Regions from separate parts of the Homo sapiens genome. Here region 1 is linked to region 2. The links come from fine-mapping of genetic effects on gene expression. A gene starts in region 2. The other region holds a variant in brackets. All regions are shown on one strand. Distances are between the middles of the regions.

Region 1 (12,012 bases), 300 kb before region 2:
CCATATTTCTTGGAGGCTTTGTTCATTTGTTTTTACTCTTTTTTCTCTAAACTTCTCTTCTTGCTTCATTTCATTCATTTGATCTTCTATCACTGATACCCTTTCTTCCAGTTGATTGAATCGGCTCCTGAAGCTTGTGCACGCATCATGTAGTTCTCATGCCATGGTTTTCAGCTCCATCAGGTCATTTAAGGACTTCTCTACACTGATTATTCTAGTTAGCCATTTGCCTAATCTTTTTTCCGGGTTTTTAGCTTCTTTGCGATGGGTTCGAACATCCTCCTTTAGCTCAGAGATGTTTGATTGTCTGAAGCCTTCTTCTCTCAACTTGTCAAAGTCATTCTCCATCCAGCTTTGTTCCATTGCTGGTGAGGAGCTGCATTCCTTTGGAGGAGAAGAGGCACTCTGATTTTTAGAATTTTCAGCTTTTCTGCTCTGGATTCCCCCCATCTTTGTGGTTTATCTACCTTTGGTCTTTGATGATGGTGACGTACAGATGGGGTTTTGGTGTGGTTGTCCTTTCTGTTAGTTAGTTTTCCTTCTAACAGTCAGGACCCTTAGCTGCAGGTCTGTTGGAGTTTGCTGGAGGTCCACTCCAGACCCTGTTTGCCTGGGTATCACCAGTGGAGGCTGCAGAACAGCAAATATTGCAGAATAGCAAATGTTGCTGCCTGATCATTCCTCTGGAAGCTTCGTCTCAGAGGGGCACCCGGCCGTGTGAGATGTCTGTAGGCCCCTATTGGGAGGTGCCTCCCAGTTAGGCTACTCGGGGGTCAGGGACCCACTTGAGGAGGCAGTCTGTCTGTTCTCAGATCTTAAACTCCATGCTGGGAGAACCACTACTCTCTTCAAAGCTGTCAGACAGGGACATTTAAGTCTGCAGAAGTTTCTGCTGCCTTTTGTTCAGCTATGCCCTGCCCCCAGAGGTGGAGTCTACAGAAGCAGGCAGGCCTCCTTGAGCTGCGGTGGGCTCCACCCAGTTCGAGCTTCCCGGCAGCTTTGTTTACCTACTCAAGCCTCAGCAATGGCTGGCGCCCCTCCGCCATATTTATTTATTTTTTTAAGAGATAGGGTCTCTCTCTCACTCTGGCCCAGGGTGGAGTACAGTGGCATGATCATAGCTCACTGCCTGCTTGAACTCCTGGGCTCAAGTCATCCTCCTGCCTGAGCCTCCCGAGTATCTGGGACTACAGATGCATGCCACCAAGCCCAGCTAATTTTGTCTCATGTCTACTAAAAATTATTTTGTGAAGGCCCTCTGAACCTTAAGGGAAATCTGATGTTGCTCAGGAATCTAACTCTCCCCAAACCATCCTCTTTGACTGCTTCTAAAATATCTCTGTTGGCCTTTCTTAGCCTTTTTCTGTTTCCATTCAGTGCTCCAAGCACTTTTTGTTTGTCTCTAAGTTGAACGCTTGGGGCTTGACAGGTAGTAACATGTAGTTTGACACTGTTAACTTGTTAAATAAATATAGTGAAAAGTTTGTGAATAAAGAATGCTGAGAAGATTCTTTATTCACAAAGATGCTTTGTACAAATAAAGAACACTCTTGTTAAAAATATATATATATTTTCTCAATAATTAACTATCTATGTGCCGACAGGCAAGTGTCCCCTAAATATTAAGTCTAAACATTTATATTAATAAAATACAACTTTTAGGCCAGGTGCAGTGGCTTGCACCTGTAATCCCAGTACTTTGGGAGGCCGAGGTGAGCAGATCACCTCTTGACAAGAGTTTGGGACCACCCTGGCCAACATGGTGAAACCCCGCCTCTACTAGAAATACAAAAATTAGCCAGGCGTGGTTGTGCATGCCTGTAATCCCAGCTACTCGGGAGGCTGAGGCAGGAGAATCACTTGAACACAGGAGGCGGAGGCTGCAATGGGCCCAGATCATGCACTCCAGCTTGGGCGACAGAGCAAGATTCCATCTTCATAAAAAAAAAAAAAAAGAAAAAGAAAAACAACAACAACAACAACGACAACGACAACAAAAGAACTAACACAGGAAGTGGGCTTTAAGAAGAATGGACTTTATTCTAAGCAATAGACAAAATAAGGAAGAAGCTGGAAGATAGCAGAGATATGGTAAAGAAGGCATATATCTAGCTTAACTACAAAAAAAGGCAATCAAGAATGCCATTTTCTAATAATAAAGGCAGCTAGAATATGGAATGATATAGAGTTATTGATGGAGGTTGTGACATTGGAACTATAAAGAAGAAAATGCAATCAAGGCACATCCCTTGGCTTTACACTGAAAAATATTTATATAATTATAACAATGTAAATACTATCTTTATTGGTTTTCAACTTTTGGAATCTAACCTAGAGACAAATCACAGGAAATTTAACTATGATTACAAAGTATAAAGGAAATGTTAAAAACTTAATATAAAAGCATAGCTTACAGAAGTTGGAAAATAGAATGAGGGGAGGTGGAAGGATGTGTAGCGGCACTAATACTCTAATTTTAGAAAGTGTACAATTAAGAGATATTATCTATAGATGAACAAGAAATAGAGGTTTATGTACCTTATATAAAGGCACAAAGAGACCAGGCACAGTGGCTCATGCCTGTAATCACAGGGCTTTTGGAGCCTGAGGTGGTGGATTGCTGGAGCCCAGGAGTTCAAGACTAGCCTGGGCAACATGGCGACACTTGTCTCTAAAAAAAATCAAAAAATTAGCTGGGCATGGTGATGCAAGTCTGTCACCCCAGCTACTCAGAAGGCTGAGATGGGAGGATCACTTGAGCCCAGGAAGTCGAGGCTGCAGTGAGCTATGATCACATAACTGCACTCCAGCCTGGGCAACAGAGCAAGACTTTGTCTCAAAAAAAAAAAAAGGCACAAAGATAACCAAAAAGGCATGCAAACAAAAAGATACCATTAGAATGATTGCCTCTGGGGAAAGGACCTAAACAGAGAAACTAAAACTAGTGATGTATTAGCAGGAAGAAAAAGGCAGTGCTGCAGCAGAAGTGAGCTAAATCCCCACCTATCAGAGCAGCTCAATAGAGGATGTCTAGAGCTGGTAAACCAAGGAAGGATTCAGAAAAAATGGATTATTGCAACATTCCCCTTACTGGTCTCCCTGCTTCCTCCCTAACCCCCTTTTAGTCTGTTATTCACAGAGCAGCTAGAGAGATTCTTTTGAAACCTACCTCCACCCATGACTTGTCCAATGGCTTGCTATCTCACTCAGAACAAAAGCCAAAGCCATAACAATGGTTTACTAGGCCTTATGCCATCATCTGCCTCACCATCCCCCGACCCCTGCAGCTCCTGCTACTCCCCCTTGCTCATTTCACACCAGCCCCAGGAGCCTCCTTGCTGTTCCTTGAACAAACTGGACATGTTCCCACCTCAGGACCTTGGCACCAGCTGTTCTTTCTGCCTAGAATTATCCTTCCCCAGACATTTGCATGACTTTCTCTATCACCTTCTTCAGGTCCTTACTCAAATGTCGACTTCTCAGAGAGGTTTTCCCTGGCTACTCTATTTGTTTTTGTTTTTGAGACAGAGTCTCACTCTGTCACCCAGGCTGGATTGCAGTGCTGCAATCTTGGCTCACTGCAACTTCCACCTCCCAGGTTCAAGCGATTCTCCTGCCTCAGCCTCCCAAGTAACTGGGATTACAGGCACCTGCCACCATGCCCGGCTATTTTTTGTACTTTTAGTAGAGATGGGGTTTCGCCACGTTGGCCAGGCTGGTCTCAAACTCCCGACCTCAGGTGATCCACCTGCCTCGGCCTCCCAAAGTGCTGGGATTACAGGCTTGAGCCACCACGCCAGCCAAGAGCAGAGATTTTCATCCGTTTTGTTGGCTGTTCCATGCCCAGTGTTTAGAACAGTGACTGGCACACAGTAGGTACTTGCTATGGGTTGAATAGTGTCCCCCAAAATTCATGTACTGAAATGCCAGTACCTCAGTATGAAACTATGTTTGGAGATAAGGTCTTCACTAAGGTGATTAAATTAAACTGAGGCCATTGGGGTATGGCCCTGCTCCAATATGACTAGTGTCCTTAGAAGAGGAAGAGACACCAGGGACACACATGCATAGAGGGACAACCAGGTTCGGAGGCAGCAAGACAGCAACCATCTGCAAGCCAAGGAGAGAGGCCTGGAACAGATCCTTCCCTGGTGGCCCTCAAAGGAAACCAGCCCTGCCAGCACCTTGATCTTGAACTTGCAGCCTCCAGAATGGTGAGAAAATTAATTTCTATTGTTTAAGCCACCCAGTGGTATTTTGTGATGGCAGCCCGAGCAAACAAACACAGTGCTCAACTAATATATTGTTTAAGTAAATGGATAAACAGGTGAATGTATATGGCAGAAATCATTAGAAAAACCCAAACCAGAAACAGTTAAGTGGCAGTTCTTAGGGAATGGGACTACAGGTAGGCAGGGGCAAGGCAGGAGATAGTTGCTTTCTATTATGAGTGATTTTTATTTACATAAATGCATTATTATCATGATTATTATTATTATTATTTTCAAGATGGGTCTTGCTGTGTCACCCAGGCTGGAGTGCAATGGTGCAATCATGGCTCACTGCAACCTCAACCTCCCAGGTTCAAGCCATCGTCCCACCTCAGCTTCCTGAGTAACTGGGACTACAGATGCATGCCACCATGCCCAGCTAATTTTTTAAAAATTTTTTGTAGAGATGGGGGTCTTGCTATGTTGCCCAAGCTGGTATTGAACTCCTGGGCTCAAGCAATCCACCCTCCTCAGCCTCCCAAAGTGCTAGAATTATAGGCGGGAGCCACCTTACCCAGCCCAATGCATTATTTTGATAAAGATTTTTAAATGTTAATTTTTTGAGACAGGGTCTTGCTGTGTTCCCCAGGCTGGAGTGCAGTGACTATTCACAGGCTCAATCATGGCGCACTACAGCCTTTAATTCCTGGGCTCGAGATCCTCCCACCCCAGCCTCTGGAGTACCTGGGACTACAGATGAGCACCACCACATCCAGTTTAGATGTTAATTTTTTAAAGGAGTTTTTTGGGAGGCCGAGGCAGGCGGATCACCTGAGGTCGGGAGTTCGAGACCAGCCTGACCAACATGGAGAAACCCCATCTCTACTGAAAATACAAAAATAGCTGGGCAAGAGCAAAATTCCGTCTCCAAAAAAAAAAAAAAAAAAAAAAATGTGGGGGGAATTTACAATTTCCAGAACAAAACATAGGTTTGTGAGGTTTTATATTAGTGGTTCCCCATGAGGGTGATTTTGCCCCCTTCCGAAGGGATATTTGCCAATGTCTAAAGACATTTTTGGGAGAGTGTTACTGGCATCAAAGATGCTGCTAAGCATCTTATAATGCACAGGACAGCTTGCCGCAACAAGGAGTTATTCAAACCAGAATGCCAATAGGGGCAAGGCTAAGGAACCCTGCTTTAAATAAATGTGTGGATCATAGATGCATAACAAGTTATTACGGAGCGTTATGACTGTTTAGTAAATAGAGTCAACCTGTGAGAAGAACATGATGTAGGAAACCCACCATACTATCCCACAATCCATTTTTTTTTTTTTTTTTTGAGACAGAGTCTTACTCTGTCACCCAGGCTGGAGTGCAATGGCAAGATCTCGGCTCACTGCTACCTCCACC[T/A]CCCGGGTTCAAGTGATTCTCCTGCCTCAGCCTCCCGAGTAGCTGGAATTACAGGCACATGCCACCATGCCTGGCTAATTTTTGTATTTTTAGTAGAGACAGGGTTTCACCATGTTGGCCAGGCTGGTCTCGAACTCCTGGCCTCAAGTGATCCACCCACCTCGACCTCCCAAAGTGCTGGGATTATAGGCGTGAGCCACCGCGCCCAGACCCACAATCCATTCTTTAGTGCCTCAGAGAAAAATTCTAGACCAAGTGATAGTTCCAACAGCAGTGCTAGGAATATAGGAAGCATAGTAAATACAGAGTTCTTTACTGACTTCTGTCCACAGGTCCTATATAAGCCTTCATTATCTACAAATGCAAATCCCATATTACCTCACTCTCCCTTCACTGCCTCCTCCTGTCAATCTAATGCCTCCCCTTGCTCTTCACGAGTCAACACTCAACACTACCGTCTTTCTTTTATCCCAAACCCCAATTCCAACATTTCTCCCAGACCACAACTCATGCTGTAATACCTTCTCTGCATCTCCTTTCTGTCATTTACACAGCACCTCTTTGATGAAATCCTCTCCAACTTCTTGGAAAAGAGTGAATAATTTCTCCCTGATTCCATCTTGCATAAAACCACAACCCCCTCCTTGCTCAACAACCTACCAAAAGCACCTACTTTTTTACACATATGCACTAAATAAATATTAAACTTCTGGATGTGTTAGGTGTTTGGGTTCTTGTACACTCATGATAAAGGTGTCTGTGTTCATGTTATGTCCAGCTAGAAGTAGTTTAGACAAATGTCTGCTGATCCGGTCTGGGAATATGGTTTCTAAGGAGGAGTTTGAGAAGGAACAAGAGTGGTCACTGTTCCATGCTACTACTCGGAACATTAGTTTTTCACCTTGAAGAGCAACATTTTTTGCTGCCAGATACTGAGAGCTTGCTAAGGAGGGGGAAATGTCTTGTTCCAGAATCAATGCACTGTGGAATATTTGTAAAAGGAAACGTAAGAAACTTGTAATAGTGGTTACCTTCAGGGGAAGGAACTGGAGAACTTGGAGATAAGGGAGAAAGAGAGACCTAATTTTCAGTGTATGCCCTTTGATAACTTTGGAACTTTGCTCCATGTGCCTATATTAGCTATACAAAAATATTAATTTTTATATCAGTATATTGTACAAAACTATACTTGTTTTTTTGAGACAGAGTCTTGCTCTTGTTGCCCAGGCTGGGGTGCAGTGGCACGATCTCAGCTCACTGCAACCTCTGCCTGCTGGATTCAAGCAATTCTCCTGCCTCAGCCTCCCAAGTAGCTGGGATTACAGGCAAGTCTCAACACACCCAGCTAATTTTTGTATTTTTAGTAGAGATGGGATTTCACCATGTTGGCCAAGCTGGTCTTGAACTCCTGACCTCAGGTGATCCGCTCATCTTGGCCTCCCAAAGTGCTGGGATTACAGGCGTGAGCCACTGTGCCCGGCTGAGCTATAGTATTTGGATCTTAAGCCAAACCTCTGCACAGCTACAATTGGATATAATATTATCATATTTCTTATATTTAAAACTGAGGTATTAAATATGTATTTCAGCAATCTATTAGACTCTGAATCCCACACAGTGAAAAAACTAAAAAGAAATTAGGTCAGGTGTGGTGTTTCACAACTGTAATCCCAGCAGTTTGGAAGGCCAAGGCAAGTGGATCACTTGAGCCAAGGAGTTCGGTATCAGTCTGGGCAATGTGGCGAGATCCCTATCTCTACAAAAAAGTCAAAAAATTAGCTGGGCATGGTGGTGCACACCTGTAGTCTCAGCTACTTGGGAGGCTGAACTGGGAGGATTGCTTGAGCCTGGGAGGATCGTTTGAGCCCAGGAGGTCAAGGCTGCAGTCAGCTATAATCACACCACTGTACTCCCACCCAGGAAACAGAGGGAGATTCTGTCTCAAAAAATAAATAAATAAGGATAATTGGAGGTGTGAAAAAGTTGCAGTGACAAAATTTTAAGTACATTTCAATGTACGATATATAATTGATTGATCAGGAGTTTTAAGTACTCTAATACAGATTACAAGTGAAGACCATTTTATCAAGGAATACATAGTTCCTTGTCTTGTTTTAATTTGGATGTAATAATGACAAGAGACCAAATACCTTAGGGTAAAAGAATGCTTTATTGAGGACTCCTTTTCCTCAAAATTTCTGCCTTCTCCCAGTGACTGTAAGATCAAATTTCACAAATTTTAAACACACACACACACACACACACACACACTGAAATTTCCCTTGTCCAAACTGAGCCTCTAATATGAAGATACACTCCTTTTTCATCTGAACTCTAAGGCCTGTCTAAACTTGAGGATGTCTACCAAACCTCTGGCCATCCAAGATAAATGGTCCCCATTCTTTTTTTTCTTTTCTTTTCTTTTTTCTTTATTTCTTCTAAAAAAAAATGGGATACATGTGCAGAACGTGCAGGTTTGTGGAACCAACCCAAATGCCCATCAATTATAGACTGGATAAAGAAAATGTGGTACATATACACCATGGAATACTACGCAGCCATAAAAAGGAATGAGATCATGTCCTTGGCTGGGATATGAATGAAGCTGGAAGCCATCATCTTCAGCAAACTAACACAGGAAAAGAAAACCAAACACTGCATGTTCTCACTCATAAGTGGGAGTTGAACATTGAGAACAAATGGCCCCCGTTCTAATATACCTTCCCCAGGCAAGTCTAGGAAATTGGCTTTCATTCTCACTGATGAGCCTCACCCTACCTCCCAAAACATCTTGCTTCTAACCTCTGAATTCATTGCACAAAAGCTAAACTGAAGACTAATTTTCAAAAGGTGATATGAGTATGAAAAAAAAAAGAAGACAAAGAAGAAGAATGTGCTTTTTAACCTTTCTCTTCTAAATGGGGAAAGTATCAGGTTAAGCGGAATCCCAGCCATGCTATCTACCTTACCTGGAGCTGTTCAGTATACTTTCTGTCCCTCTACTTTCTGTGTTTCTGTTCTGGGTTAGATAGATACCCCACCAGTTATTACACTTATCTGTGGAAATTTAATCTCTCTAATTTTTTTTTTTTTTTTTTGAGACAGAGTCTCACTCTGTCATCCAGGCTGGAATGCAATAGCGTGATCTCGGCTCACTGCAACCTCCACCTCCCGGGTTCAAGCAATTCTTCTGCCTCAGCCTCCTGAGTAGCTGGGATTACAGGCACGTACCACCACACCTGGCTAATTTTTGTATTTTTAGTAGAGACAGGGTTTCACCATGTTGGTCAGGCTGGTCTCGAACTCCTGACCTCAAGTGATCCACCCACCTCGGCCTCTCAAAGTACTGGGATTACAGGCGTGAGCCACTGTGCCTGGCCTAATCTCTCTAATTCTAAAATAAAAATATTAGGCCGGGCATGGTGGCTCACACCTATAATCCCAACACTTTAGGAGGTCAAGGCAAGAGGGAGTTCAAGACCAGCCTGGGCAACATGGTGAAACCCCATCTCTACAAAGAATACAAAAATTTGCCAGGCATGGTGGCACATGCCTGTGGTCCCAGCTACTCAGGAGACTGAGGTGGGAGGATCACTTGAGCCTGGAAGGTCAAGGCTGATGTGAGCCATGATCACACCACTGCACTCCATCCTGGATGACAGAGAGACTCTGTCTCAAACAAATACATAAAATAAAAAGTCTTCTCTTCACCCTTACTAAATCTATTCCTATCTAACAATAGCTTAATCGGTTGTGCATGTACACTGACCGGTGTATAGGCTGCTCAGGCTGCCATAACAAAATACCACAGACTCACTGGCTTAAACAACGCAAATGTATTTTCTCAGAGTTCTGGAGACTGGAAGTCCCAGATCAAGGTGCCAGCCAATTTGATTACTTGAGAGTGCTCTCTTCCTGGCTTACAGAAAGCCTCCTTTTTATGAAATAGGAAAGAAGAAACAGCAGCACCCTATTCTCCCACCCTTTAACCAAGGAAGTGCTGAGATGCTAGTAAAGTCTTGTATCAAAGCAAACAAATGCCACAACACTGATTTGTCTTCTTTGAATCCCCATTCCTCCTAATATCCACTAGGTCAAAACTCTGCTGGGGAGACTGGAATACAGACATTGGCCTACCCTGTCCTATTGTGATTGCAGGTTCACAGGAAAATGGCAACTATGTCCATTTAACTCACTCTCTACAGTATTGTTGGGCAGAGAAGCATTTAAATGCTTTTGATGATGATGATTATAGAGAAAAATGAAATATAAATGGCTACTGACAAGTCTCATTGTAGCAACTTTTATAACCCCATTATTAAGGAGATGAATATTTTCATATTCCTAAACAAGAGGTAATAACATGTCTAAAGCCTCTTTGCCCCTCACTTATTTTGTTAAAATGCTATTCTCATTTATTCTCGCATCTTTTCCCCCTTGGTGTGCATTAGTTACTATGGAAACATCAGGATACCATAGTTTGAGGTTATCAACATTCTCAAGTTCTATTAGAGTTTGAAGGCAATTTATATCAAGGTGTTGGAGAAGGGGGTTGTTGCTGAGGCTTAGAAATGAATGAAAGAGAAAATAAAATGTATGGTACAGCCAGACAAACACAGGCCTTATTCAGAAAGCACCAGAGAAGGGTTGGGAGGTCATCTCATCTGCCCAATTTATCTACCAGAATCCTGACTGTAGTCAATGAGGTCTATCAAGTAAAGATATTTATGTATAACAACACCACCATGGGTTCTTTCAACTGAGAGCTTTAGCGGAACAGTTTTAAAAACTAGTAGAGTGACTGAACCACACACACTACGGAATTTATTATATGCACATTACTGAGTAATTGACTTCATTATAAACAAAGACACACACACCAAGTACATCGAATACGAAGTCCACATTCCAACCATCAGATTAACCAACCTACATGTATCTGTATCTGTTCTTTCTGCCGTTCATCCTATTACAATATATGAGAGTCCCAGAAGAGTTCAACCACTTTTATGATTTCAACTATCACCCATATGCTGAAGATTCCCAAATAGATATTTTGATCCCAGACCTTTGCCCACTTGCGTGTGGGTATCTAGTATATATCTCCACCACAATGCCTCACATACAATTAAAACTGAATTTATCTTGTGTATTAGTCAAGGTTCCTGAGGGTTCTCCAAGATATGTATAATGAGAGAGACAGAGATTTATTATAAGGAATTGGCTCATGCAGTGATGGAGACTGAGAAGTCCCATGATGTGCCGTCTGCAAGCCGGAGATCCGAGACAGCTGGTGGTATAGTTCCAGTCCAAGTCTCCTGAGAACAGGAGAAGCAAGGTGTAAGTTCCAGTTCACCTGCAAGAGAAGACCAATGTCCCAGCTCAGAAACAGTCAGGCAGAGAAAATGAATTCTCCCTTACCCTGCCTTTTGTTCTATAAAGGCCTCCAACAGACTGGAAGAGACTCACCCACACTGAGGAAGGCAATCAGTTTTACTCGGTCTATCAATGTGTTAATCTCATCTAGAACCACCCTCACAGACACCCCCAGAATAATGTTTGGCCAAATATCTGGACACCCTTTGCTCCACTCAAGTTGACACATAAAATTAACCACCACATCAGCTCCCCACTTGAACTAGATAGTACCCCATATTCTTTACTCCAGTCGTGACATCACATCCACCCAATCACTCAATCTAGAACCCTTCAAATCACCTTTGCCTCCTCCCTCTTCCTTATTCACTGTATTAGGTTAATCACTAAGTCCTACAATTTTTTTTTTCTTTTTTGAGATGGAGTCTCGCTCTGTTACCCAGGCTGGAGTGCAATGGTGCAATTTCGGCTCACTGCAACCTCCGCCTCCTGGATTCAAGAGATTCTCCTGCCTCAGCCTCCCAAGTAGCTGGAAGTACAGGCACCCACCATCATGCCTGGCTAATTTTTGTAGTTTTGTAGAGATGGGGTTTCACCATGTTGGCTAGGCTGGTCTTGAACTACTGACCTCAGGTGACCCACCCACCTTGGCCTCCCAAGTGCTGGGATTACAGGTGTGAGCCATTGTGCCCAGCCAAGTCCTGCAAATTTTACCTTCTAAAAAATTCCTCAAATTTGTCCCTGCCTTGGCTGGGCGTCGTGGCTCATGCCTGTAATCCCAGAACTTTGGGAGGCCGGGGCAGGTGGATCACCAGGTCAGGAGTTTGAGACCAGCCCGGCCAACATAGTGAAACCCCGTCTCTACTAAAGATACAAAAAAAATTAGCTGGGCGTTGTGGCATGCACCTGTAATCCCAGCTACATGGGAGGCTGAGGCAGGAGAATCGCTTGAACCTGGAAGACAGAGGTTGCAGTGAGCCGAGATCTCGCCATCACCCTCCAGGGCAAGACT
Region 2 (12,012 bases):
AGAAAAGAAAAAAGACCAGGTGCAGTGGCTCACGCCTGTAATCCCAGCACTTTGGAAGGCCGAGGAGGGTGAATCACCTGAGGTTGGGAGTTAGAGACCAGCCTGACCAACATGGAGAAACCCTGTTTCTACTAAAAATACAAAAAATTAGCCGGGCGTGGTGGCTTATGCCTATAATCCCAGCTACTCGGGAGGCTGAGGCAGGAGAATAGCTTGAACCCAGGAGGCGGAGGTTGCAGTGAGCCGAGATTGTGCCATCGCACTCCAGACTGGGCAACGAGAGCGAAACTCCATTTCAAAGAAAAAAAAAGAGAAAAAGAAAAAAGAAAAAAAATGCAAAACCCACTCATGGCTCCTGGGGCATACAAAAGCAGGTGACTGACTGGCTTTGGCCTGTGGCTGTAGTTGGCAGACCCCGATCTAGAGCAGTGGTTTTCAAACTTGAGAGTGTATCCCAATGCCCTGAAGGTTTTATAAAACAAAGCTGGCCAGGCCCCAGGCCCAGAGGTTCTGATTCAATAGATCTGGGATGGGGCTCAAGAATGTGCATTTCTAACAAGTTCCCAGGGGATGCTGCTGTTGCTGCTGCTGCTGTTAGGGTGGGGACCACACATTGAGAACCATCTGTCTAGAGCAGGTATATCCTATCTTTTGGCTTCCCCGAGCCACATGGGAAGAAGAAGAATTGTCCTGGGCCACATATAAAATACACTAACACTAACCATAGCTGATGAGCTAAAAAAAAAAAAAAAAAAAAAAAAAAAATCGCAAAAAAATCTCATAATGTTTTAAGAAAGTTTACAAATTTGTGTTGGGCTGCAGGTTGGACAAGCTTAGTCTAGAGGCTGATACTTATGTCCCTGTCCTGTCTAGGCTTTAAAAGACAAACAGAATGGACACTGGTAGTAGCATCCCATGTATACTTGCAGAGATTAGAGAAGGAATTTCCCCCTTGCTTTCATAACGTTAGGCCACAGACGGGTAAAAACAAGCCCAATGTGGATCTGTGGTCTCTCATCTGAAATCCTGGGGACCATGTATAATTTGGAACTTTGAATTATCTGGTCTTAAGTATATGGGGCATATACCACATAGTGACACCTAGCAAGGTAAAGGGCAGCAATTCATAGTTAAACATATTAATATGACCAATCACGCTAAGTGATATTTTAAAAAGATTATAAAGTAGCCTCTCTCCAGTTCAGGTCAGGTTTTACTGGCAAATGAGTTATGAAAACTTGATAGTCTTAAATTTTGGTCATTCTACAATTTCAATTTCTGAATTACAGATAAGAGACTTTAGATCTACACTCTTAGAAAAGGAAATGTATTTTTCTTTACTGTTCTTCTTACCTGCTTTTAGAACTCTTCATCACCACATGAAATAAAATGGTTGAGATTTGGAAATAATGACAAATCATGAAAATAAAAACGTGAGCGGGGCAGAAACTTATCTCAATCTGGGCAAGCTTTTGATTTTCAGAAGCTTACAAAAATAATGAACCATCAGAAGTAGAAAGTGGTAACTCTCAGAGCTTAGAAAATGAAACTGGTTAGGAAAAGTTCCATGTGATTTAGTTCAATGAATTTAGTTTGTCCTCCACCTCTACCCCTGGTTCATTTACTAAAAATAAATTTTTTTTGTTTTTGTTTTTCTTTTTTTTAATTCTGTTTATTCCTCCAGAAGACCCTAAATACAGACATTATAACAAATTTGTTTTAATATCATACTCATGTTTATTCTCCTTCTGCTTGCTTTTCACAAACTGATAATACTAACAGTGTAGATTTAGGAAAGTTCAGCAGCTTTTGTCTCAATTTGCCAAAAAAAAAAGAAAAAAGCATTTAAAAGTAAATGGACTTTTTTTTTTTGAGACAGGGTCTCACTCTGTCCCCAAGCTGGAGTGCAGTGGCACAATCTCGGCTCACTGCAACCTATGCTTCCTGGGCTCAAGCCATTCACCAGCCTCAGCCTCCTGTGTAGCTGGGACTACAGGCGTGAGCCACCAACGCCCAGCTAATTTTTCTATTTTTTGTAGATACGAGGTTTCACCATGTTGTCCAGGCTGGAAAAGTAAATTGACTTTAAAAAAAAGTAAACTGGTTAATATTTAAACTACTGCTTGAAAAGAAATGTAATACACTACTCTCATTAATAAACCAACTTTTAAAACTTTTTATATACCTACAAAGTGACTTTAATTTTGTAAAATGTACTAAGTATTGTTTGCTTACATTCCCCCTCCCCACATTTTCTTTTCCCTATGAAATTCCTCCCAAACCTTTCTCCCCATAGCTTCAAAATTTTAGGAAATATTACATCGTGACTGAAACATGCCTTTTCACTTGTCTTACTAACATGGAAAAGCCAACTTACTCCTTGACTTTTCATCATGGCAGCAGTTTACTTATTTTAGGTTTTCTGCAGTCAGACCACACATACAATGCAATTTCTTCCTCACACTTAGGATTTCATTCTTAAGAAGCCAGTTTGACCTGTGCAACAGCGCCAGACGACACACAGATGTTTGCTCAATAAATATTTGTTGAATTAATGAAGGAAGGAAATAGAAATTCTTCCTAATTCTATTGATATTGACTGAACATTCTTATTACTATTAAAATTTTTTTTAAATGAAAAGGTATCAGTATGTTGCCCAGACTAGACTCAAACTCCTGGGCTCAAGTGATCCTTCCACCTTAGCCTCCAGAATAGCTGGGACTACAGGCATGCACCATCGTGCCCGGATAACTGAACATTTTAAATAATTCTTTGCAAAGAAATTTTAGCCAGGGCAGGCGCGGTGGCTCACATCTGTAATCCCAGCACCTTGGGAGGCCGAGGTTGGTGGATCACTTGAGACCACGAGTTTGAGACCAGCCTGGCCAACATGGTGAAACCCCGTCTCTACTTAAAAATAAATAAATAAATAAATAAATAAATAAATAAAATGAAAAAATAAACTTAAGAGTTTTTTTTAAAAAAAGCTTTAGCCAGATTCCATTTATTTTAGGTTGCTTAATCATAAATGAGTAACCTCAAACACCATAGACCAGCATTAGAATAGTAGCTAAACTAGCAAGTTCATTTCTGTAGGTTTTGTGATTTCCTGTTTTTCCATACTCCCAAAAGGCGTTTTCCAAAAACACAACTTCACAATTGAGGCACCCAGGGATCCTAAATGGTTAAGAGATCTATACGTTCTTGAGACTTGTTTCCTGAGGGTCAAACTGATTTTTCCAGCATGGAGAAAACACAGGACAGCCAGGTGCGGTGGCTCACACTTGTAATCCCAGCACTTTGGGAGGCCGAGGTGGGCGGATCACGAGGTCAGGAGTTCGAGACCAGCCTGGCCAATACAGTGAAACCCCGTCTCCACTAAAAATACAAAAATTAGCTGGGCGTGGTGGCAGGTGCCTGTAATCCCAGCTACTCGGGAGGCTGAGGCAGGAGAATCACTTGAACCCAGGAGACAGAGGTTGCAGTGAGCTGAGATTGTGTCACTGCACTCCAGCCTGGGCAACAGAGCAAGACTCTGTTTGAAGAAAAAAAAAAAAAAAAAAACACAGGACAAGCCTAGATAGTCTGTCCATTGTAGATAAATGATTCTTTACAAGGGATCCAACAACTATTTATCAGCCTTTTTTTTTTTTTTTTGAGACAGATTCTCGCTCTGTCGTCCAGGCTGGAGTGCAGTGGTGTGATCTCGGTTCACCGCAACCTCCACTTCCCGGGTTCAAGCAATTCTCCTGCCTCAGCCTCCCGAGTAGCAGGGATTACAGGCATGTGCCACCACGCTTGGCTAATTTTTGATTTTTAGTAGAGACGGGGTTTCTCCATGTTGGTCAGGCTGGTCTTGAACTTCCAACCTCAAGTGATCTGCCCACCTTGGCATACCAAAGTGCTGGGATTACAGGCGTGAGCCACCACGCCTAGCTATCAGCCTTTTTTAATTTTTTAATATCAACCCTTGCTGGAATTTTAGAAGAAACAGAGTAGTAATAACTATAGTACAGCGTGAACCATTCTGATGAAAGACACACAAGGAAAAATTATTTAGATAACAAAATAAAATCTCTCTTCTGCAAAGTTAAGTCCTTCACAATGCTGTACTAGGGTTCAGTCACGAGAATTTACCATGTGCCAGAGATGGTACAAGATGCTAAGGACACAAAAATAAATAGGACATAATCCATGTCCTCAGGTAGTGTTTAATTTAGGAGAATGGCTGCTACTATTCTGAATATGAGAAAATGAGCTTGATACAAATCACAAGAGACTCCAGATTGCTCAGTTTGGTTTTTTAATCCTTACGTCAGCAAAACAGAAGGGGAAGAGTCACTACTCATCCAAAACAGTATATACCAAACTTGTCTGATCATATGAATGTCAAGGGGCTTGTTAAAATACAGATTCCCAGAATTATCTCCTGGAGAAGGTTAGGAACTGGTTCTCTACTCGATTCACATGAGCAGGCAACTTTTGGAAACATGATCTAGAAGAAAGCTAAGACATGCAGTAACTCCCTCAAAAAGTTAGAACATTTCTAGAAAATGTAACTTATTAACTGGTTACAGAAAGGGCTGAGCTGCCAAAGAATTTCTTCTGCAAAGCCTTGTCTCAGCAGAAACAACGGGGGAAGACTCATCTTTTAGGCTTCAAAACGAAGTCACATTTGGCAGTGTCCAGGAAGCCAGGATCCTTGCCCACAAGGAGCTCAGTTTCCTTTTTAAAGAGGTGAGAAGGATTCCAAATAGAGAAAAACGTTCAAACATTTGAACCTAAAGTCAGGGAGTCGGTGATCAGTTTGATAACATGGGCAGCACTGTTTGGTGACCAAACAAAATATTATAGAACAGAAAATGTCTATTATCTAACCTATCTGCTCCTCTGTGTCTGAATGCAGACATAGAGTGATGACTATGAGTTACCTTCAATCATCTCTGGAAGGAGGCAGAGCATCCAAATAAATAAAGTAAATAAACAAATAGTAGCTATCATGGTTTTAAGGCAGAATGCAACATATAATGGAAATGAACCTGACAATGGTGACAGATGTCAACGAGATAGTTGCAAGGCAGGTTTAAAGTTTAAAGGTTTGGGAGGCTGAAGCAGGTGGATCACAAGGTCAGGAGTTTGAGACCAGCCTGGCCAGCATGGTGAAACCCCGTCTCTACTAAAAATACAAAAAATTAGCCCGGCGTGGTGGTGCATGCCTGTAGTCCCAGCTACTTGGGAGGCTGACGCAGGAGAATTGCTTGAACCCAGCAGGCAGAGGTTGCAGTGAGCCAAGATCGTGCCACTGCACTCTGGGAAACTGAGCGAGACTCCGCCTCAAAAAAAAAAAAAAAAAAAAGTTTAAAGGTAAGGTGGAGGGAGAAATGGTGTATAAACGAACCTTGCTCTTTCCCACCTGTGCAAAAACACACGGTAGATGCTACTACATGAAAAAGAAATCAGATTAAAAGCAGTTAGGAATCAAGCCACAAAACAGAGTTAATTCCTAAAATGAGAGTATCAGAACTTCTTTTTGAAAATTTAACACTACCCTCACCCATTTTTAAAGGCAGATGATGTCATACTTTGGTGCACGGCCAAAGGACAAAGAACAAGTGTATGCAAAGAGATGGATGGATATGTCAGGAAGTCCGAATATATTCTACAGTAGACTGCCTTCAAACAAAGACATGCAGTGGAAAAAACCATTTGAGTCTGTATTTTTCAGTAGTTCTAACAACACCAACCACTTTCCAATGTCTAATAAATCAACTTAACTTTGCAAATGCATATTTAATTGATGAGAACTTTTGGTCAGACTTTAGAATGCTGGTAAAAGTTGTGAGACTTAAGCAAAACAACTACTCAAAGTTTGAAAGGCCAGTGTGGATGAAAAAATTCAGGTTATCGCCGGGCGCGGTGGCTCACGCCTGTAATCCCAGCGCTTTGGGAGGCCGAGGTGGGCGGATCACGAGGTCAGGAGATCGAGACCATCCTGGTTAACATGGTGAAACCTTGTCTCTACTAAAAATACAAAAAAAAAAAAAAAAAAATTAGCCGGGCGTGGTGGCGGGTGCCTGTAGTCCCAGCTACTCTGGAGGCTGAGGCAGAAGAATGGCGTGAATCCGGGAGGCGGAGATTGCAGTGAGCCGAGATCGCGCCACTGCACTCCAGCCTGGGCGACAAAGCGAGACTCCGTCTCAAAAAAAAAAAAAAAAAAAATTCAGGTTATCTCAATTTCTGTGCAACAAGCACAGAGCACCATCATTTCAATACACAAAACCCTCAAAGATGACATCCATTGATAAGGCATTAGTTTAAAAGCTAAGCAGAGGTTTTAAGTTCCAAGAGCAGTATGTCCCAGGACATAACTCAAATACACCTATCAGGAAACATTTTCATTGTGCATAGCAACTGGAAAAACTGTTCAAATGCACATTTGCAAAGACCCTAACAACCCAAGGAAAATATTTTCCACTTTTTATTTTTAAAGCACCCAGGTGTTTCTGTATTGTAAAAGCCTCAAGGATAACTTCTGACATTGCAAATGCCCTAGGGGTGGACATTGAAGGATTACTGATTTTTTTTTCAAAGCAACTCCTACAGGTGGATCATTCATTGCCCCCATGAAGTAACGCAGTACGAAAAGAAGCAGGCTCAAGCCATGCTCAGATAAATTCACGGATATCTGATGTACAATGGGCTAATTACTGGGAAGAGACCCGAATTCATTCTTAACTTTTTGAGGTCAACTTTAGGAAGCAGTATGGAGTTGCAGCGAAGGGATTAAGGACCTGGAGGCTAGCAAACTATCCTTAGCTCTACCTATTAATTAACTATGTGACCTTTGGCAAGTAATTTCACCTCTCTGTGCCTCAGTTTATTATCTATAAAATGAGTGGGTTGACCTTTACCACAAAATCCCTTCCAGCTCTAAAATTTGATGAAACAACTTAATGGAGAACAAAATACAATGCGTTCTGCAAACTGTTTCTTTGAAGCCTTAAAGACCACCAAGAAGTACACGGCTCAGGCATCTCCAATTAAGTCTGGGCCAATTCTCTGGGTGTCTGGTACACAACCAACCGACTCCTTACTTGCCCTGCACCGTTTCTGTTTCACTGGGCATTCAAATCCATGGATCTCATCTGTGGTTTGGAAGGCTGAGCAGATAACACCCTCATTTACACAAGAAACTTAGGCGTAGGGCTTAAACGTCCTGTTTAAAGTCTCAATCGGTAAATGACAAAGTCTACTTGACCTCATTGCTCTAAAAAGGGGGGTGGGGGGTGGGGATGCCGGGGAGGCGCCGACAGCCAGTTGTTCTGGGATCCCTGAACAGCAAACGCTCCCGGGAAAAGGCCTCAAGCCGACTACTGGGTTCAAATCTCTTGAAGGTCAGGTCGGCATGGCTGAGCCAATTCCTCCGCTTGCAAGACTCAGGGTTCGGAGTCTGCCAATTTGGAATTCACGTGACTATGTGTTAAGTTTCTCGCGGGGACGCGGGGGTAGAGGGCTGCAAGGCACAGGGAGCCTAAGGCGCCAGGCCCTCGGACTTGGAGGTTGCCTGGAATGGGTCAGTCACCTGGGAGCCGGTTCCTCTGCCTCGGGCTTCGGACGCACACGGTCCGCACCAAGGGCACCAGCTTCTGCTTCAAAGCACCCGCCGCCAGGCCTCCACACCGGAACATTTCGGCGACCGCTATTCGGGACCTCCTCCTTCCCTTTCCTCTCACGCACGACCGACGGGTCAAACACCGTGAGCCCCGGCCAGCTCCCCCAGTCTCTTCACACGCACATTACGCAGACTCCTCCTCCCAGCTCCGGGTGGGCATTGGACAGAGAAGCCGGCCTGCTAGAGCCGGGGAAGGGGAACGGCGACCGGAGGCCTACTGCGCAGGCGTAGCACTCGCTGCCGCATTGCGATTGGTCCGCACGGCGAGAGGATTTGCGCATGCACTAGCTGGCCGCAAGCTCGCAAAGACGCTGGCTCTAGGTAGCCGGTTTTCGCGAGTTTGTGGCACAGTGTTGGACTGAACGAGTTAAGGAACCTGTTCAAGGAGGGACTCGTGGGGCCGCTTTGATTGGCGGTTGTGCCTGGTGCTGCCGCTGTGTTGGTGACGAGAACTGATAACAGCATCTCACAACAGCGTAGCCCCGGCATCGCACTTTGTTTTTTGGTTTTAGGACACCAGTTACTTGATACCGAAGCCTTCCTGATTCTTTTGCAGTGATCCAGATCCAGTTTTTCCATGAGTCCGAGGCGCGGAACCTGGCTTCCCAGATCCGGCGTGTACTTCCATCTTTTACCAGTTGCCGGCTCTTTCCCACCCAACCCGTTTCCTGGACAAGTAATTCTGCGCTCTTCTTCCCGCCTGTCACCTTTATTTATTAGTTCAGTTGTGTGTCCTAGATGCTGTATACCAGGTGCTACAGATACACACAGTCTCCTGCTGTGGTTTCTGTGCTTGGGAGCAGGATGTTAGCAAAAAGCGTTCGTGCTTCTCGGACTTTCTGGGAAGAGAAGTCTGCTAAGCAGAACTTTCAGTTATGGGAGTAGGGTGAGGGGCTGAGTGTAAATAAGTGTTTTGACTCTGCCAGATATAAGCTAAATTGGAAATAATGTTTTGGCTGCATGCAGAACATACAATGTGCCTGTTTCAAAGATTCAGCTTACATATTCATTTAACAAGTATTTATTGAGCACTTACCTCTTGGATTGTACTATAAAAGGGGCTCTGTTGGGTATGAAAAGTACGGATGGTCCCCGACTTACCCCTCACAATGGTTCGACTTACAATTTTTCGACTTTATGATGGGTTTAATGAGACCTAACCCCATGTCAGTCGAGGAGCATCTGGACTTAAGCATGGTTCAACTTACGGTTTTTTGACTTTATGATGGGTTTATCAGGGTATTAAATGCAGTTTCGACTTAACGATATTTTCAGTTTACAATGGGTTTATTTGGACATAGCATCTATATAGGAAGTGGCCACTGTCTAGTTGGGGAGATGACATATACCGGTCATTGAAATAATATCTGGTGTAGTGCCGGACAGAGCAAGAGAGAAGACTATGGGATGGAATCACTATGGTAGAACTTCGTGTAAGAAGTTATTTGAGTTGTGTCTTGAAGGATGAGTAGTAAAATTCAAACAGTAGAGGAAAAGGATTGATATTTCAGATGGTGAATACTTTCGGACCAAAGATAACATTTTTCATTGTTAAACATGTTGACCTTGGATCCAGACCAACCCACATTGAATCCTGGCTCTGCCACCTGGGCAAGTCACTTAATTGTGCCTCATTTTCCTCATCTACAAATCTCAGGAGGGTGTTCGGAAGACTAAATGAGCTAATATTTGTAAAGTGTCTTAGAGGAAGCACCATGCTGTTTGTTAAATGAAAAGGCTTGGAACTGTTTTAAAAAACCAAAACCCAGCACATTTTCGGGGGACAATGATAGAGAGTACATACTAAGAAGTATTGATGTGGTCAGGCTCCGTGGCTCATGCCTGTAATCCCAGCACTTTGGGAGGCCTAGGCGGGTGAATCACTTTAGGTCAGGAGTTTAAGACCAGTCTGGCCAACATGGTGAAACCCCGTCTCTACAAAAAATCCAAAAATTAGCCGGGCGCCATGGCATGCGCCTGTAATCCCAGCTACTAGGGAGACTGAGGCAGGAGACTCGCTTGAACCTGCCAGGTGGAGGCTGCAGTGAGCCAAGATTGTGCCACTGCACTCCAGCCTGGATGATGGAGCAAGACTCTGTCTCCAAAAAGAAAAAAATAAAGAAGTAGTGATAAAGACAGGCAAGTATGGTGGGGGGCCAGATTTGAACTGGCAAGAGTTGGGCCCTAACTTTGGAGGTAATGAAGTTACTTTTTTTTTTTTTTTGGTGGAATGGGGATAGAGAATGAAATTACAGGGCCGGGTGCAGTGGCTCATGCCTGTAATGCCAGTACTTTGGGAGGACGAGTGGGAAGATTGCTTGAGGCCAGGAGTTCCAGACCAGCCTGAGCACATAATGAGACATCATCTCTACCATTTTTTTTTTAAATTAGCCAGGCGTGGTGGTATGTGCCTGTGGTTCCAGCTACTCAGGAGGCTGAGATGGGAGGATCACTTGAGCCTAGGAGATCGAGACTGCAGTGAGCAGTGATTGCTCCCGTGCACTCCAGCCTGGATGACAGAGCGAGACCCTATTTCAAAAAAGAAAAAGAAAGAAATTACAAAGATACTCTTTTTTTTTTTTTTTTTTTCTTGAGACGGAGTCTCCCTTTGTCACCCAGGCTGGAGTGCAGTGGCAGTATCTCGGCTCACTGCAACTTCTGCCTCCCAGGTTCAAGCAATTCTCCTGCCTCAGCCTCCCGAGTAGCTGGGATTACAGGCAGATGCCACCGCGCCCTGCTAATTTTTCTATTTTTAGTAGAGACGGGGTTCCACAATGTTGTCCAGGCTGGTCTTGAACTCCTGATCTCAGGTGATCGCCCGCCTCGGCCTCCCAAAGTGCTTGGATTACAGGCATGAGCCACCTCGCCCGGCCTACAAAGACACCCTTCTGTGAAGTTTAACCCAGGAAGTAGTTTTGTTTTTTGGTTTTCTTTAAGAGACAGTCTCATTACGTTGCCCAGGCTGGTCTTGAACTCCTGGGCTCAAGCAATCCTGCTGCCTCAGCCTCTCAAAGTGTTGGGATTACACGTGTGAGCCACTGTGCCAGGCCTAGGAAGTAGTCATTATGTGGTGAAGATGATCCAGGGCTCCCTTACCCATTAAGCAGAGTAGATCAGTGTTCAGAAGTGCAGGCAATGGGTGACATTTTATCTAGAGCTCCTTTGGATAAATATTGAAAATATGGTCAGGCTCTGTGGCTCATGCCTGTAATCCCAGCACTTTGGGAGGCCGAGGAGGGTGGATCACTTTAGGCCAGGGGATAAATATTGAAAGTATCAATTCCAGGCCGGGCACGGTGGCTCATGCCTGTAATCTCAGCACTTTGGGAGGCCAAGGCGGGCGGATCACGAGGTCCGGAGATCGAGACCAGCCTGGCTAACACAGTGAAACCCCGTCTCTACTAAAAATACAAAAAAATTAGCCAGGCGTGGTGGCGGGCGCCTGTAGTCCCAGCTACTTGGGAGGCTGAGGCAGGAGAATGGCGTGAACCTGGGAGGCGGAGCTTGCAGTGAGCCGAGATTGTGTCACTGCACTCCAGCCCGGGTGACAGAGCGAGACTCCATCTCAAAAAAAAAAAAAAAAAGTATCAATTCCAAAGTAAGGTAAAAATTATTTATATTTACTTAACATTTTAACAGCCTTGCATTGATTTTTATTGATATTTGTAAAAACCAATAATCATGGATTGATTAAATACAAAGTTAATTATATCTGATGGCAAAAGAGACTGGAAAACACTGTCAAAATCATGATAATCAGGTACCTATGAAAACAACTGCATGTATTTGAAAGTAATTTAATAATGCACAATTAACACAAAGGGCATTGTACAGTACATTTAATTTTTTTACAATAGGTACAATAAGGTAGTTTTCCTGTCCTTTTAATTAAAAATTATATTTTTATCTTTTTTCAAAAGCAATATATACTCATTGAATTAATTCCAAAAAATATAAGTGGAAATCCCCCAAAGTCTCACCCCACAGAAGTAACAGACACCTTTTATTAGGGCAAGAAGCCCATTTTGAGATATCATATTTTCAGAAATCAAAGTTTCTTCCTTACAAAAGTAGACTCAGTGACAAGTTTTTGCTAGAAGCTTACATTGAAATAATCTTATTATGTACATATGTTTTTTTAATATCTCTCAGGAAGTTAGCATTAATTCTAGCTGTGAATTGGCAAAGGGCAAAGCCCCTTTCTACTTTGTGTACAGGATGTACCTAATTAATAGTTACCCCTCTCCACCTTAAAGCTATTCTGTAGATAAAGATCATCAGGGGCATTAACTTCCAATACAGAGGGGAACGATCCAGCAAACTAGGCATCAGACTAATC

The links.
Region 1: its variant is fine-mapped to the expression of AIFM1 in monocytes (TOPMed, PIP 0.98).

The regions. Positions count from the first base shown.
Region 1 is chrX:129,858,317-129,870,328 of GRCh38, forward strand. No RefSeq gene overlaps it. Among named protein-coding and RNA genes, the nearest start is that of ZDHHC9, 20 kb to the left of the region's middle. The variant T/A (reference allele first, on the strand shown) is at 5,625.
Region 2 is chrX:130,157,968-130,169,979 of GRCh38, forward strand. AIFM1 (apoptosis inducing factor mitochondria associated 1) reads right to left here and starts at 7,874. Exons shown (of 16, transcript NM_004208.4): 1 at 7,584-7,874. The coding sequence starts at 7,689. It also overlaps a transcript of RAB33A not described here. RefSeq lists an enhancer at 7,523-7,862.